2 separate regions of the Homo sapiens genome follow, and region 1 is linked to region 2. The links come from fine-mapping of genetic effects on gene expression. A gene starts in region 2. The other region holds a variant in brackets. All regions are shown on one strand. Distances are between the middles of the regions. Region 1 overlaps PIERCE1 (piercer of microtubule wall 1). Region 2 holds the start of LCN1 (lipocalin 1).

The links.
Region 1: its variant is fine-mapped to the expression of LCN1 in prefrontal cortex (ROSMAP, PIP 0.95).

Annotation. Positions count from the first base shown.
Region 1 is chr9:135,494,160-135,499,528 of GRCh38, reverse strand. PIERCE1 (piercer of microtubule wall 1) reads left to right here. Exons shown (of 3, transcript NM_001048265.2): 2 at 866-944; 3 at 3,914-4,348. The coding sequence ends at 4,102. Among named protein-coding and RNA genes, the nearest start is that of PIERCE1, 3.0 kb to the left of the region's middle. The variant T/AT (reference allele first, on the strand shown) is at 2,735.
Region 2 is chr9:135,519,240-135,524,608 of GRCh38, reverse strand. It overlaps LCN1 (lipocalin 1), which reads right to left and starts at 3,169. Exons shown (of 7, transcript NM_002297.4): 1 at 3,022-3,169; 2 at 2,432-2,562; 3 at 1,307-1,377; 4 at 619-729. The coding sequence starts at 3,111. RefSeq lists an enhancer at 1-304.

The DNA of each region.
Region 1 (5,369 bases), 25 kb after region 2:
AAGGAAGTGGGGATAAGGGCAGTGGGGGGCAGGGCCGTGGGGGGAGAAAGCCCAGTTGTGGTCTCAGCTCCACTGATTTGTGTCGGGTGAGTCTCCTCTCCTCTCTACCCTGAAACTCCGCTGCGGGGCGTGAGCACAGCAGCACCTCCACTGTCTTGCTGTAGACTCAGCCAGCTCTGAGCTGCCACAGGGCATTGCAGGCTAAGAAGTAGTAAGAAACTCAATTCCTGTAGGCAGGTGCAAACATCTTGCCGTGCTCATCACACATTTGGTCCCTCAACAGTCCTCTAGGGCAGGGTCTGTTAGTATCCTCATTCTCGCATTGAGATGACTGGGATGTAGAAGGAACAACTTGGCCAAGATCTAGGAGTATAAAGTAAAGCTATGTCGTGGGCCTGCAGCCTCTCAGTAGCCTGTCCTACTGACAGGTAGGGGCAGTGGTACCAGTAGAAGCATAGCCTCAGTGAGGGTGGGGGCTCAGAGGCAGAGGGACCCTCTGGGTGGCAGGGTCTGGAGGCCAAGCCTCCGCTCCTGACAAGCTAGGTTACCCAGAAATTGCAGCATGTGCCGAGGCCCTGCCAGGGCTGGGGATCAGCACTTGCTGGCTGCCTGCTCTTTAGGGCTTTGGCCTGCCTTGGAAGAGCAGGGACAGTGGCAAGCAGAGGGGGCCGGGGAGGCCGGGCCATTCAGAACGGTCATCAGCCAGGTACTCCCAGAGGCTGCCTTCGAGGCCACATCACCAGCCCGGGCATATTGCTCTTTCCATGGGGGCATTTCCAGGGGAGTGCCGTCAACCAAATACAAGGCTGTGGCTTGTGCAGAATTAGAGTAAATGAATGAAAATAGAGTGTTTCTCATCTACCAGGACCCAGAAGGCTGTCTCCGTGTACAGGACCAGTAACCAGGCTTACGGGAGCAGAGCCCCCACCGTGCACGAGATGCCTGTAAGTGGGATGCAAGACCGGGCATGGGGGGCAGGGGGTGGGTGGCCTCAAGAAGAGGCTAAAAACCTGGGGTTCTCAACAGGTCAACAATGAGACGGGGAGGGGTGCACCCAGGGAGGAGGCCAAAGTTCCAGCATCACAAATGGGGAGGAGGGAGGTTCCCAAAATCGCTTTGGGAGAGGGTAGGATGGAACTAAATGAGTGAATGAATTTGGGAGTGGAGTGTTTTAAAAGAGGAGGATATAGACTTGCTGACATCACCCTGCCCCCATACACCCAACCACACGCACAGCAGTCTCACACACACACACGCAACCATCTCCTGCAACTTACGGTGCTCAGTTCTGAGGCAAATAAATGAAGGGCTACTTTTTTTTTGGAATTGTACTTTATGAGATGTTAACGTGTAACCTGAAGAGGCAGTACTGGCTGACGGCACAGCTTGTGGGTGGGCAAGTTGTATTGGTGGGCACAGGAGTCTGTGGGCCATTGGGGAAGCCAAACCCTTTTTGAGCTTGACCTTAGGCTCCAGGATGGCCCTCCTAGAACCTCCCCACACCAAACCCCATGAAGGTCCAGGTGAATGGACAGAGGGACTAGTGCGGTGTCTCCTGCACACCTGGGACACTGGGCCAGCCATTCTGGGGTGAGAATGTTGTGGACGTATTTTCGTTGTCAAAGCATTCATCACTGAAAAGGTCTGGTGAGTGCTTATTTAGTTGTGTGGCGTGAGTGACTGAGCCCTTGTGAGAAGATTACTTATCTAAAAATGCTGGAGCATTTGAGAATCACTCTCCCGTAATCAGACGACCCTGAGTTTTCCCTGGGGATCAGGTATTTCTATGAAAAAGACCAGACACAGCTGGATGCGGTGGCTCACGCCTGTAATCCCAGCACTTTGGGAGGCTGAGGTGAGAGGATCACTTGAGGCTCAGAGATCAAGACCAGCCTGGGCAACGTAATGAGACCCCCATCCCTGTAAAAATAAAATAAAATAATTAGCTGGGTGTGGTGGCATGCACCTGTAGTCCCAGCTATTCAGGAGGCTGAGGGTGGAGGATTGCTTGAGCCCAGGAGGTTGAGGCTGCAGTCAGCCTTGATCATGCCATTGCATTCCACCCTGGGTGAGAGCCAGACCCTGTTACCAAAACAAACAAGCAAACAAACAAAAACCAAAAAAAAAAGAAAAAAAAACCCAGCACACTCACTAACATGGGTCCAGATGTTTTAGGTTTTATAAAAGGCCATGAAAAAATGTTCCTATTGTAAATGGTAGGAGCCTTCAGGTCACTGATGGGAGCAGGCAGTGGGGTAGGAGGCATGAGGTACTACTGACAAGTTTCCAAGGAGGTTCTCCTCCTTCTTATCCACCTGCTCCGTCTGGAGTCTCTTTTCCAGTTTCGTGACCAAGGGTGGATGCCGGAGAAGCTGTTTACCTCCCATGTGGGAATAGAAGATAAATGCTTTGCATTAAAAAGTGCACTGAAAGGCTGGGCGTGGTGGCTCACGCCTGTAATCCCAGCACTTTGGGAGGCCGAGGCGGGTGGATCACCTGAGGTCAGGAGTTTGAGACCAGCCTGGCCAACATGGCGAAACCCCGTCTCTACTAAAAATACAAAAAGTAGCCGGGCATAGTGGTGGGCGCCTGTAATCCCAGCTGCTTGGGAGGCTGAGGCAGGAGAATTGCTTGAACCCAGAGGCGAAGGTTGCAGTGAGCTGAGATGGCGCCATTGCACGCCGGCGTGGGTGACTAGAGCAAAAACTCCATCTCAAAAAAAAAAAAAAAAAAA[T/AT]GCACTGAAGGGAATTCCTCTCCATGATACTGCATGGGCGGATCCCTGTGATGATACATTTGTCCCACCCATAGAATGTAGACTTTAGTTACTAATAAAGTATCAACACTGGCTCCACCGTAAAAAGTGTGCTACACAAGTGCGACATGCTAAGGACAGGGGGAACTGTGTTTGCTGAGGGAGGTAATTTGGGAACTCTCCGTACTTTCTGTTCAATTTTTCTATAGATCTAAAACTTCTCAAAAACAAAGAAAAGTTTTCTCTTTGCACTTGTTTCTTGCCAAGGAGATGAAACATCAGGTGATGTGCGTGGCACAGGATCCTCTAAGGACAGGTCACCCGTATGGGGTAAAATATTTGGCGGAGGTCCAGACCACTCGCTTCAGGAATGTCACAGTCACCTAATGATGCTGTCTTGCTAGAATAACTCCTACCACTGGGTGCCCGCCCACACGAGTGGCCTCAGCACACCCCTTCTCAATGGAGTTTTGCTCTTGTTGCCCAGGCAGGACTGCAATGGCACAATCTCGGCTCACTGCAAGCTCCGCCTCCCCGGTTCAAGCAATTCTCCTGCCTCAGCCTCCCGAGTAGCTGGGATTACATGCGCCCGCCACCACACCTGGCTAATATTTTTGTATTTTTAGTAGAGACGGCATTTCACTATGTTGGCCAGGCTGGTCTCGAACTCCTGACCTGAGGCGATCCACCTGCCTCAGCCTCCCAGAGTGCTGGGATTACAGGCGTGAGCCACCGCACCCAGCCCCAGTTAAGGTTGAAACCCACTGACATGGATATCATTTCTATTCCATAGAAGAGAAAACTGAAGTTCAGAGAGGGCTGGCAGCTTTCCCAGAGTAGCACAGTGAGCAAAAGCAGACCTGGGGGTGACTCCAGGACTGACCCCCAAGGCGATGCTCACAGCCACATCCTGAGGTAGAGATGGCACACAGGTGGCCCCACAGCTCATTCTTCTATCCTTAGAACAGTGCCGGGGGCAGTGTTAACAGCAAGTGCCAGGCATCGGGCATGGATTAGGATGGTCTGGGGTGAGCCAGGCCATCCTACCCACTCTGGCTTCTCTGCATTTTCTTATGAATTCTTATTTTTCTTTCAAAAATATTCAACGGATTGCTCAAGAGTATTATACGTCATTAATCCGTGTTCCTTTATCTCTTATAGAAAGTATTTTATCCAAATTCGAATAAATTTTCCCAACAACTTGCAGCGGGTGGAATGTTCCGGAACAATACTCTCAATGTTTACCTGGAGAAAAGCATCGTGACTGGCCCCGATAACTGCATCACCTCCTGTGACCGGCTCAACTTCCACCCCAGTTACAACATCAACAGGCCATCCATCTGCGATTGAGGGGCTGGAAACTCCCTCTAGGAGTCCTCTGACCCCAGGGCCTCCTGGAAAATCATCATCCCTCATCACCCACAGTCGCCCGATTGTGACGGCACAGACTGCGCTGCCTTCCCTGAAAATATTATTCGTCTGCGGAGTAGGAAAATATGCAAACGGGGCCGTGAAGTCCTGCCATTTCACATCTAATAAGTACATGGGAAAGATGCTAATGGTTGACTTTGCATTAAAAACGTTGTCACATCCTGAGCTTCCGTCTCGTCTGACGTTTGTCATGGTGGAGTGGGGCTGTGGGCTCCCGGGGCCCAAGTCCTGGCCTGAGCATCGGGAGCGCTGGTGGCTAACTCCGCTCGTGTCTGTATTTGGGAGCCATGTTACACACAAGACCAGTTAGGGAGCAGATCTCCCGTCCTAAAGCACCCAGCACCCTGGCTGAGATCTGCACAAACACTGCGGGGTTCCCACGAGGGCATGAGATGCCCCACTGGGGTGTGGGCGAGGGCCAGGCGCTGGGCAGGAGGAGGAGCAGATGCCTCGTCAGCCAAGTCGAGGCTGAACAGGCAGGAGGGGCCGTTACTGTGTGAGATTACTGGAGGAGCACATGGGGTTGCAGATGAACCTCCTCCACCATGTTTGTGTGCTTCATGCTCCAGCAAGGGGCAGGGGCAGGGACAGGGGCAGAGACAAGGTTGGTGAATGCCCTTCATTGTGGAAGGGGATGATGCAGACATGGGCATTCTCTATGTTTATTTTAAAATTTCAATAAAAAGTAAAAAAAAAGGCAGGGGATTACCTGTATTTTGCTAAGGGGGGTAATAACTACATGAAGTGGATTTTTATCTCTATGTAGTCATAAATCCATGTTTACTATGAGCTACAGGGTCTTCAATAAAAAAAAATTTGTCTATGACATGGATTTTTTTTCCCTCTATGAGAGCAAGATGTGTTCATTATAGGAAATTTAGAAAGTACTGAAACTAGAAAAAAGAAACTCCTCTTACACACCATCAATAATATCTTGTTAATAGATTCTTACCTGCAGGGATTCTACTCACGAATTAGGGAAGAAGTTAAACATCATGATGGGTTATTTCTTCATATAAACGTTTTATTATTAATACACAAAAGTAAACATTTTGGCAACAGTCTTAATGTCCAATTTGGGATGGAAATGCTTTCCAGAGAAAATCAATATATTTAATTAAAAAGTATACAAAATTGGCCCTGAAGCCAGGATCTATGTAATATCTTTCTTCTGAGCTAAAAAACC
Region 2 (5,369 bases):
ATCCATCCCTGAGCATCTCCCGGAGTGAGGATGGACGGCACGACAGGCCCACCCTGGAGGAAGCGCCTCTCCCCTTGGGGGCACCAGGATCCCAATCCTCTGTCATTCGCACACCCCTGGCTCCAGGGAGAACTCAGGAGCCTTCATGGGCCTCGTCCTCTGACAGGGACAGCACTGATGAGTCACCATCTGTGGGAGGCACCGCGTCCGGAATTCAACCCCGGGAGCTGGAACGTTCTTTCCATGCAGACTTCTGCTCACATCCCTGTTCCTCTCTCCTGCTGGACACCCCACAGGAACGCGCTCAAGGATGACACTGCAGGGAGCTGCTCCGGGGGAGGGCCTGGCCCACTCTGGGACATGTGTGACCTTTGAACCCCTGTGCCTGCAGCCGTGGCTCCTTCCTGCCTCTGCTGCAGATACCGAGGCCGGGGCATCCCAAATCCTGAACTCCAGGGGTGGGAATTGAGGCCTTTATCAGGAAAACTCATCCTAAGAAAACTGCAGTGGGTTCCTGGGTCCCAGTGGCTTCTCCCATGGGGAAGAGGGTGCAGGAGGCCGAGGGAGGAGGGAGGGCAGGTGGAGGCATGGGTTGCAGGGTGAGGGTGCGGGACCCACCCACGAGCTTCACCCCTCGGACCGGCTTCCCGTGCAGCTCGCCCTCACAGTAAAAGATGTAGTGGTCCTTCACGTGCGACCTGATGATGTATGCCACGTGCTTGCCCCCGTCTGCAGAAAGACAGCAGCACATTCCTGAATTAGCCACCAGGGACTTCAGAGAGGATCCCGGGACAGCGTGCGTTGCCAGGCCCAGCAAGCCCCGCAGCTCCTGCACCCTCCCAGCCTCCCAGAGCTCCCTGACCCAGGTTCCCCACCAGGCCTGAGCCCCAGGCCATGGGACCCCCACTTCCCAGGAACCTGATGTACCCAAGAGGCGGCCACATCCCAAACCAGTGAGTCACGGGGGGTTCCTCCGGGTATGAGGTCTGCGGAGGTGGGAGTTGGGGTACAGCCCCCCGCAGCCAAATACGACTCTGCTCCTGGCCCTGCCAGAGCCACAGCCAGGGCTACAGGGCAAGCCCAGAGGGTCCGCCCCGGGACAAACCTGCCACACCTGGTGTTTGGGGTCAGGTGTTCAAGTCTCTAATGCAAATTGACCAGTGGGAGAAGAGAGTGGGCTTTTAGTGGAGTCAGAAGGCAGCAAAAGGCTTCCCAGGCCAAAAGGCCACCCCAAAAAGGCACTGGCTGCCCCCGCACATCCAGCGTGTGTTCAAGCTCAGGCTCTGGCTCAGGCCCCGGGACTCACCGGCCGTGTATTTTCCCGGCTCGTCAGTTTTCTCCAGGACGGCCTTCACCTCCTGGCACCGGCCACTTATCCTGGAAAACAGAAGCCCCCTGGCAAAGCGGCCCTGGCCTGTGCCTCCCCCGGCCCTGGAGCAACCATGCTGCAATGCCCTGCAAATGTGGCCCCGAGTCTGCCACAGGCCCATGGAGGAGGGTGCTTCTCTGCATCTCAGACCCAGGCACCAGCGGCCCCTCCGGGTCCCATGCGGCAGTTCCCGGGGTCTCCCGAGATGGCCAGGAGCTCTGCACCGCTCCTCCTGGTGGCTGCCTTCCCAAACCCCCCGCCCCCAACACATTTCCTGCCAGAGGCACCCAGGCTGCCTGGTTTGCAGGCAGCGTCTGTGGCGTGGGCCTGAGCCTCATCCCGCCAGCTGCATTCTTCCTTTTAGAGACATTCAGGCACAAGCCCCATATCCATCATCATCTGGCCCAGAGAGGGAAAGGTTCAGTGAGGGGCTTTGGGGGAAAAAAAAATCGGGGTCATTGCCAGGGTCAGTGACTTCCTGAGATTCAGCCCCCAGGACCGGAGCACAGGCACTGCATGCCACTCAGGAGGGAGCCATGCGGGTGAAATCACACAGGTGGGAAGTCACAGATGTGAGCCACGCGGGTGGAAGCAGCCCAGGTGAGAGCCGCACAGGTGAGCGCTACACAGGGATTTCAAGGGGGTCTTCTCCATGGTGTCTTCTCCTATGCCCCCTCTTGGTCATTCTGCAAGCCCCATCCCTGCACTTCTCCAAAGCAGAAATTTACTGCCAGGACTGGCTCTGACTCTGGTCGGGGGTAAACACCTTTTCCCAAAGGGGCCTGCACGTCACCAGACATTCCCTAGTCGGAGGAGGAAGTGGGCGGTACCCAGGGCTGCCACTGGTAGCCCACAGGGTCTGATCCGGGGCCTCTGCCCCCTCAGGGCCCCTCCAGCCGAGGCACCTCAGTGGCACAGTTTGCCCTCAAGCATTGCAGGAGGGGCCGAGAGAGGCCTCCCAGCAGGTCTGCCCACCTCCCCAGCACCAGAGCTCTCCTGGGTGGGGAAAGGGAAGGCCCTAGACCAGGTTGCAGGCTGCCCGGCCGGCTGGCAGACACTCACAGCATGGTGACCTTGGCTTCCAGGTTGCCCCCTTCCAGGGTCGTGAGGGTCATGGGTGTCACCGATTCCAGATTCATCTCAGGGAACTCCCTGTCCACCGTCATGGCCTTCAGATACCACGTCCCTGACACCTGGAGAAGGCCCCTCTCTATCAGGCTCAGGCCGACTGCTCCAGAGCCTCCCCCTTCCCTGGCCTGCAGCCCCTAGACTCTACCGCACCCCGAGGGCTGGAAACGGGGAACGTTCCCCAATCTAACCCACCCAGAAAACACCCAGCACCCTCGCCAGGCCCACTTGAAGGTGGCTCCAGCCCCCACAAGCCAGCCAGGACCACAGGAGCCCTCATCCCCAGGGAAGAAGTGAAGTCAGCCAGACCCCCACCCTCCCAGCCCTGCCCACTCTGCACCCCTGCGCCACCTACCCTGCCAGCCCAGACCCCTGCTGCCCCATCCCACCATTCCCTCAGGGCAGGGCTTGAATGCCCAACCCAAAAACGAGGGTCTCCTTGGATGGAGGAGGCATGGGGTCTCCATCCAGTCTCAGCCTCGCCCCTTGCCCCCTCCAGCCCAGCCTTCCCATCCGGGCCTCACATCCTGAATCTCCTCGTCTGAGGCCAGGAGGTGGTGGGCCTGCAGGGCAGCAATGAGGCCAAGGCTGACGGCCAGGAGCAGGGGCTTCATCTCCGGAGTCTGAGTCCACGGCCGCCTGACAGGTCGCTTGCTGGGGCTGGGAGAGGCTGTACCAGTCCTCCCACAGCCGCCCTTTATACCGCTGGGCTCAGGGTCCCCCAGGGACCTGGCACAGGAGACTGACCAATCCCTTCCTGGATGTAAACCACTGCCAGTTCTGCAATGGAGCAGATAACCTGCCATTATTGTTGGAGGCTGGTGAATAACAGCTTGTTAATCCCAGAGGATCACTTGGACAGGACCAGGTCCAGAGGAGCAGATTTGCAGATTTCACCTGAAGGGAAACTGAAGGGAGTGAAGGGTGTGCAGGCCTCCTGGGGACGTGTGCAGCCGTAACAGATGCCCCCCAGCCATCCCACACTTGCTGACGTGCACACTGTCAAGGGGGTTTGGGGTTGGAGTCCGAGGGCCGTGGGCTTGGGGCTCAGCTGAGCTTCCTGCATCTCTGGGCAGGTTACTTGGCCTCAGATTCATCATGGAAAAAAAGGGACCCTCCTGTGTGAACACGATCCCGTGTGCATTTAAAGACGGTGTCCACTGTCCTGAGCAAGGTGTGCAGTAACGACCCTCTCTGCTCCACACACAGAGCAGCAATAGGTCAGACAGACAGAAGACCAAGACAGGTGTGTGTGTGTGTATGCATGTGTGTACATATATACATGCACAAACGCACACACACTCACATAAAACAAGGAATGGAGGAGAAGCACAGGCTGGTGATGGGGCAGAGGCAGGGGCCTGTCAGCTCCAAGTCCCAAGGCAGGCAGAGAGGGCCTAGGTCCGGCTCCTGGGAGTGATGGGAGGGGCTTCCCTGACTCCAGAAAGAAGGCTGAGAAACCCTCCTTGACACATCCCAGGGCTGTAACTTCGTATAACTTAGTGGAGCACTGTGGGCATAGGAAGGCAAGAGGACATCAACACAGCCTCAAGGGCAGAAGCTGAGACAAGCCGTCCTTGGAAAGGATGACTTTATCTGTGACATGCTCTGCATCACTGCAGAGCAGAAGCCTGGGACCCGGGATGGGAGCAGAGGCTACAAAACACTGCTAGACAGAGGACAGTGACAACAAGATGGCAGAGAAAGGCAGAAATGCAGAGACACAATATCCTCACCTTGAAATAAGCTAGAAAGGCCAGGTTCCAAATTACCCAAGGAAACACCACACTAAGAAAGGCAGGCTAAAAATGAGCAATTGGTACAGGAACTTACACCAGCCAAGGAAAGTCTGACACACACTTTAAAACTGCAGGAGTATGATCAAGATGCCTAGTGATTTAAAAATATATAAAGTATAAAATTAGAACTGGCCAGAATATAAGAAATAAGGAGAGACGAAATAGAAATAATTACAAATCTTGAAGATGAATAATAAAGTGAATAAAAAACTCAATAGACAGGTTAAATTCCAGACTTGACATAGTAGAAAAGAGACTTAGTGTCATGGAAGATAGTACTAACAAAATCAATGAAAGCAGAAAAATTCAAAAGAGAAATTGAGGTGTTACAGATAGATTCAGTCTCCAGCCTGGAGCTAGTAATAAAATGAGTGGAGGAAACCAACTAGAGTGCAGCAGCTCTGAAAACACAACACACAGAGATATACACACACACATGCACACACACGCACACACACATGCACACACACACATGTGCACACATACAAATGCACACAAACCCATACACATGCACACCCACATACACACGCAGACATACACGCGTGCACACACCATTCATTCATACATACATGCACATACATGCACACATACACACACACATGCACACTCACACACATACACACATGCACACACATGCACAAAGTTAACACACATGGAGAATAGATCAGGAGGTTCCAATATAAACAGAATAGGAGTTCTGAAAGAAAAACATTTTCTAAAATGGCAACAAAGCAACAGAATAGCTCAGAATTCTTCAGAATTGAAAAGACATGAAGATGACACCCCAGATCTAAATTACCAAGGAATGATCAAAATTGAGAAATCCACTCCTAGAATATTACAGTGAAATGCAGATCATCCAGGAAAGGAGAAAAAAAGTCAAAATGACCAGAAAGAAGAGCCACACTACATACCATAAAAGCGGATGTGGACTGATGGCAGACCTCTCAATAGCAACGCTGCCTTCCGGAAGACAGTGGAGTGACGTCTTTAACAGACCCGGGAGAAATCACATTTACCTGTGAATGTTATTCTCAGTGCAACTTTCATAAAATATTGAAGGCAAAATAAAG